Linked DNA regions of Homo sapiens. The protein of the gene in region 2 purifies or fractionates together with the protein of the main gene of each other region. This does not show direct contact. Each region holds a gene or a part of one and is shown on either strand. Other genes may lie near its edges.

Evidence for each region. The genes of interacting proteins can lie anywhere in the genome.
Region 1: the proteins of SCARA5 (region 2) and UST purify together in Homo sapiens (affinity purification with mass spectrometry; one large-scale study listed by BioGRID and IntAct). This does not show direct contact.

Annotation. Positions count from the first base shown.
Region 1 is NC_000006.12:149,074,760-149,077,490, forward strand, and holds the end of UST (uronyl 2-sulfotransferase), read left to right. Parts: 3' UTR 1-2,231; downstream 2,232-2,731. UniProt on the Homo sapiens protein: Sulfotransferase that catalyzes the transfer of sulfate to the position 2 of uronyl residues in glycosaminoglycan chains. Has mainly activity toward iduronyl residues in dermatan sulfate, and weaker activity toward glucuronyl residues of chondroitin sulfate.
Region 2 is NC_000008.11:27,881,174-27,884,673, reverse strand, and holds part of SCARA5 (scavenger receptor class A member 5), read left to right. Parts: intron 1-3,500. UniProt on the Homo sapiens protein: Ferritin receptor that mediates non-transferrin-dependent delivery of iron. Mediates cellular uptake of ferritin-bound iron by stimulating ferritin endocytosis from the cell surface with consequent iron delivery within the cell.

The DNA.
Region 1 (2,731 bases), on a different chromosome or scaffold from region 2:
GAGGATCTCCATGGGTAAGTGGTTTCTACCCGCATGGGTAGAGTTCTGCCTCTGGTCCTTCTCAGGGGGCACTTTCACCAAGAGCAGTGTAATTATCTCTGAAAGAGCAAGTCAGCTTGTGCCGCATCCCCAACCAATCCACAGCCTGGAGTACCTTTCAAGGTCAAAGTGCATGGCCAGCTCCATTGAGACATTCCATTTCAAAGCACCGTGCTGACAGATATCAAAGTACTCTAGCAGGGAAAATAATTTGTTTGCTGTGTAAGGAAGAATGTAGACAAGACAGATAAATCTGAAGGTCATGTGGCATCAGGGAAAGGGCATGGCTGTGTCTTTTGCACCCAATATGAAACATCTTCTCCCAACACTGCTTTAATGGAAGTTCTAGGAACCAATTTAGCTCAGGCATTTGACTCCTACAGCAGAAGTTCTGAGCCTGACCACAGATGGTGTGTAATCTATCAAACACACCCCTGGCCAAGTTGGGTCCTATAGGACCTGGTACTATGTACTATTGTAACTTCTAGTTCCCTAAGAGGTACCTGTTTTCAGTAAAAAGGGGTCCTGAGTTCTGTGCAGGTGGAAGAGCTACCCGAGAACTACCTGAGTTCTGTGCAGGTAGAGTCCCATTTCTTATGGGACCTGTGTGCTCCTGAGAACTCTTACTTGAGACATCAAAAAGAAGCAGCAAGAGCTTCTGGGACAGAGACTGCTTGGCCAGCTTTGTAAGTAAGTGGCTGCCTCCAATGTGATGTGAGTACATGTTGGGCAGTCTCACTGTCCTAAGGTATGTCTTCTTTCCACCTCCCACTGCCCCTCCCCTGCCACCTATCAATGATGCCTTGGTTCAGTCATTAGAAATCTGTTGCTTTGAGTTCTGAAATATTTTCACCTTAAAAAAAATGCTGAAAATACACATTCTCCTGGGAAGACGATAAACAGCTAGCTAAGAAGCCGAGGTTCAGTGGTGGCAGCAGGAAGGACACTGCCACAAATTTTGTCTATTTCATATTTGTCCCCTAGAGCCAGCCCTAGCAAATGTGTGAGTTGGGAGTAGTTAATAGTAAATAAGACTCTGACTTTACACAAGCTACACATTTTATACTTTTCATAAACCACAAAGTCTCTCTAGAATTTTTTCTGCCTTCACTAAAATTGGACTGTAGCCAAGATATAAAGCAAGTCATTTGGAACCTGCCGAGTGAGCACTGAAGCTACTTTATCATGAGATGTGTGTTAAGAAGGCTGCAGCCCACAGGAGTCCAGGGAAGGCGGGGACCACAGAGGCACAGAGTCCAGCACTTGGCCGCTCATGGGCCTTCTTTCTGCCTCAGAGGACGGGGGCAGAGAAGTGATGAAGGGAAATGTTCTTAGAGGAGGAAATATCCTTTGTCCTGTTCAGAGAGACCAGGGCCCTACCATTAGGCATACTTTCAGAAGCAACCTGGAGAACAGCTATCAATCATATTCAAAACCAGTACAAGAACTGCTGCCTGGTACCCTGTGAGTCATTTCTATGAAATTCCATATAAAGAATGATGATAAGTTTACACACTGTGCAATCTCACAATCTGAAAATAAAGTTGAGTTGGCTGTGTTTTCTCTGCTCTTGTCAGAACATTGGGACAATTGGTCGTTCAAAAACATTCATCCTCTTACTGCAAGTTTATCTGGGTACTTTTACCTGTGTGTTCAAAGGCATTTCTTTTCAGCAGTGATCATTATAACTTCACAAAAAAAGATGCTGACGGATTTACTTACAGGGCCTTAATGTTATTTTGTCCCAGCCAACACCCTCTAGGTCCTAAAAGTCAAGGTACTTCAGTTTATTTGGCAAACATGACAACATTTTTTTTGGCCCTGGGCCCAACAGTTTGTACTTCATGAAACATATTGTACATTTTACATAGTTTAATTTAAAAAATACCTTTTAAGCTAGTTGATCTTTGACTGTCTTATTTATTATAACCTTTCAGCACATTCCAAGGTTTTAGTTACTCAGGAAGGAGTTAATTAAAATGATTTTATTTTGGTCTGATGGATGTTTTTTAAAAGGAAAATTATTATTATGAACCTTCAGCCTACTTTCTTGAGTGCCGTAAAAGTGCTTGTAAATCTTTTTTTTTTTTTAAGAAGAAAGAAAAAAATGGTGTTTGACGTTGATGGAAATTCAAAAATATATATGGAACTGAAACATTAACTTAGCTAAAATAAAAGCAATCTGTGTTTGAGATGAAGCATTCCTTAACTTATTCATCACCCATATAAATAAATAAATATAAATAAGTTGACATATTTCTTCCATCCTGTTGACAGCTGGAAATAAAAGTGCCTGCAGTTCCTCCCCTCAGCCTTCTTAATTGGCCAAGCTTTTTTCCTCAAGATGGGATTTTGAAAAGCTGTATTTTAAAAAGTGTATCAATTTTCATTCGTGTAATTATATGACAGCAAAAAAAAGGGGGCTGATAAAATGAACTAGTCATTTACTCATGTTGTTGCATATTTTAAAAAGCAAACAGGTGATTTTATCAGTATTTCCACGGTTGGTTTCATGTCGGGGTGCTACATCTGAATCATCTGTCTCTGTTATCCAGCATCTACGGGGCATGTCTACCGTCAGATAGGAAAGGAAGGATGTGCCCCAATTCTCAGTGTCTACGATGATCTGTTTCTCAGACATGCAGCACTTCAAAACCTGGACCACTCTAAGCTCTCAAGTGAGTAGTCTTGA
Region 2 (3,500 bases):
AAGTCAGGGAGTCTCCGACCGTCTACCTTGGCTGCCTAGTCACACCCAGTCACACTCTTCCTGTTGTTTTGACCCCACACCTGACTTCTGCCTGGCCTGCTCTGTGACTCACAGCACCCTCCTGCCACTTCTTGCCCTACTTGCTGACCCCACACTGTGGCTTCTGTTGCAGGCCTCCTGGTGCAGCCAGAGGTGAGGCAGGTCTGTGAGAAACCAGGGCTGACAGCCTGGCCTCAGCCAACCCAGGGCCAAGGCCCCGCGCAGCGGCCGGGTCCCTCTTGGTGCTGCTGGCTGCAGGTTAGCCTGTCCTTACTGCTCCCGGGGAGTTTCTTGGTGTCAGACCCAGCCTCTGAATTCCAGCTCTTCTCCATGTTTTTCTTCTCCAGGATCTCTCTGTTGTCTTGCATAGCCTCAGCCTGTTTGGGGACAGCCTGAATGAGTTTGTATTTGCAGTCTGTGTGGGGAGAACGGTCACCTGGCCAGGGATGAAGGATCCGCAGCAAATACATCCAATATCGAGAGGAGGCATCCCTGGTGCTCTCGCTGTAGTCTTTAGCATCATTCCTGGGGTTGGGGTCGCTTCCTGGTGGCTTCCTCGGTTCCTCTGCAGAATTTTCTGGGGTTTTCTTGGCCCAGGCATGTGGCCAGTTCTGAGTTCTCTCCTTTCTCATGGGGCACAGATGTCAATTCTGCCATCTCCTTCGGGACCTATGAAAGTCTTTGCCAAGTCACAGTCATTAAAAGGAGGCTCCTTCCAGCCCACTTGGCCAAATACAAGATAAAGGAAAAACAAAAGTCCAGGAGTGCCGCGCTTATTAGTAGCAGGGCTTGAGTAGGTTTGTTATTTTCTCTGGCAGTTCACATGGGCATTTTCCTGCATTGTGTCACCCACTTGTCACTGGGTTCCAGTACAATGTCCACCCCTACCCCACATGACACCAGTGGATTCTGGCTTTAAAAAGAGATGACCCTGATTTCTTCTCTGGCCTTGGATTACTGAGGGTTGGAGCTAGAAGGAACCTTGCTGATTGACCCTCTAATCTAAATGCCAGTCCACAGCCCACAAACCAATTGTTCTGAATTATTTGGGACACTTGGAAAAATAGAGATCCCTCACTCTTGCCACCAAGATTCTCTTTCAGTAGGTCTGGATTGGCCGTGGAATCTGGTGTTCCTAATGATTTTGATAAGACCCACTGACCACTCCAGTATCTTATCAAGTGAGGATGCTCAGGTCCCAGCAGGGGAAATAGCCCCCAAGAGTAGTGGGGCGGGCAGGATGGTGAAAAGGATGTGGGAAGACACATAAGGAAACGCAAGCTGTGATCCCAGCTCTGGCACTGACCATGTGTTTCACCCTGAGACTATGACTTCCCAGCCAAACCCTGGCTTTGTGATGATCCAAAGGCTTCTTTCAGTTGCTCTGGTGTTCTTTGGGTCCCCAACATTTCCCCTTGGAGAACCAATGCATTGTAATGCTCAGGAATGGCTCTCTACTACATTCTGCAAACATTGATTTTTCATTTCCTCCAGCCAGGCTGTGTGCCAAGCACTGAGTTTAGAGATCAATGTGACAGGGGCTCAGCCCTCAGAGAAGGGGGAACAGACCCACATTGCTGATGTTTCCATGGGCCAGGATTGTGCCCCAGAGCCCTTTTAGCTTTGTTGCATTTTGTTTGCATGACAGTCCTGCAGTGTAGATGTTGTTCCCATGTCGCAGTTGGGGAAATGCCTTTAGAGAGGTTGTGAGGCTACCTTAAGGTCATTCAGGTCGAAAGGGCCTATTATGTGCCAGGTGCTATTCTGAGTTCTTCACATCTATTACCATGTTTCATTGATTCTGTGACACACATTTATATGTCTGTGAAATCAGGAAGCACCTGGCACTTGATATAATTTGCCACCTACCCAGCAGAGATTTTTCCTTCTTAGTGGCATATAAAACAGGCGCCCATTACAACAGGTGGCATCTCAGATTTGATGAACCAATGTGTCTCACAGTTGCAGATAGTAAGTGGCAGAACCAGAATTCCCAACTGGCTCTCTCTGGCTTAAAGCACTTTCACACTCACAGCCTAGTGGGAAAGTGAACATGAATGACCAAATCAGGGCTGAGACACTTCCCGGGACACAGCCATGCTACCTGCCCACAAAGTCTTAACCATCCTTGGCTTCCTATTTCTCCTACACCCTCCTCCCTAGCAGGCAAGGCTGCTGGTCACCGGGTCTCAAACAGTGGAGAGAAATCTGGTAATCACACTCCTTGATATTTACCCAAATGAGCTGAAACTGACATCCACATGAAAACCTGCACATGGATATTTATAGCAGCTTTATTCATCCAGGCAAAAACTTTGAAGCAACCAAGATGTTTTTCAGTAGGTGAATGGATGAATAAACTATGGTGCACATAGAAAATGGAATACCATTCAGTCCTAAAAAGAAAGGAGCTATGAAGCCATGAAAAGACATGAAGCAACCTTACATGAAGGTTCACTTACTTATTACTAAGTGAAAGATGCCAATCTGAAAAGGCTGCATACTGTATGATTCCAACTATGACATCCTGGAAAAGGCAAAACTACGGAGAAAGTGAAAAGATCAGTGGTTGCCAGGGGTAGGGAGGAGGGAGAGATGAATAGTCTCACTGAATAAGTGGAGCACAGAAGATTTTTAGGGCAGTGAAAAGATTCTGTATGATATCGTAATGGCGAATACACATTATTATACATTTGTCCAAACCCATCGCATGTGCAGCACCAAAAGTGAACCCAAATGTAAATTGTGGACTCTGGGTGATGACGAGGCATCAGTGTAGGTTCATTGAGTGTAACAAATGCACCACTCTCAGGGGATGTTGATAATGGGGGAGGCTGTGTGTAGAGGGAGGGGTGTTGTATATGGGAATTTTCTGTACCTTTCAATCAATTTTTCTGCGAACCTAAAACTGCTCTTTAAAAAAGGCTATTTTATTTTATTGTTTATTATTTCAACTTTTATTTTAGATTCAGGGGGTACATGTGCAGGTTTATTACCTGGGTATATTGCGTGATGCTGAAGCTTGGAGTATAGATGATCCTGTCATCCAGGTAGTAAGCGTAGTGCCCAGTAGTTAGGTTTTCAACCCTTACCCCTCTTCTCCCCTCCCCCATCTTGTATTCCCACCCCCACCCCTGTGTTTAGCTCCCACTTAAAAGTGAGAATATGAGGTATTGGTGTTCTGTTCCTGCATTAATTCACTTAGGATAATGGCCTCCAGCTGCATCCATGTTGCTGCATAGGACATGACTTTGTTCTTTTTTATGGCTGCATAGTATTCCATGGTGTATATGTATATGTACCACATTTTCTTTATTCAATCCGCTGCTGATAGGCACGTAGGTTGATTTCCATGTCTTTGCTATTGTGAATAGTTCTGCAATGAACATATGAGTGTATGTGTCTTTTTGGTAGAATGATTTATTTTCCTTCAGATGTACACCCAGCAATGGGATTGCTGT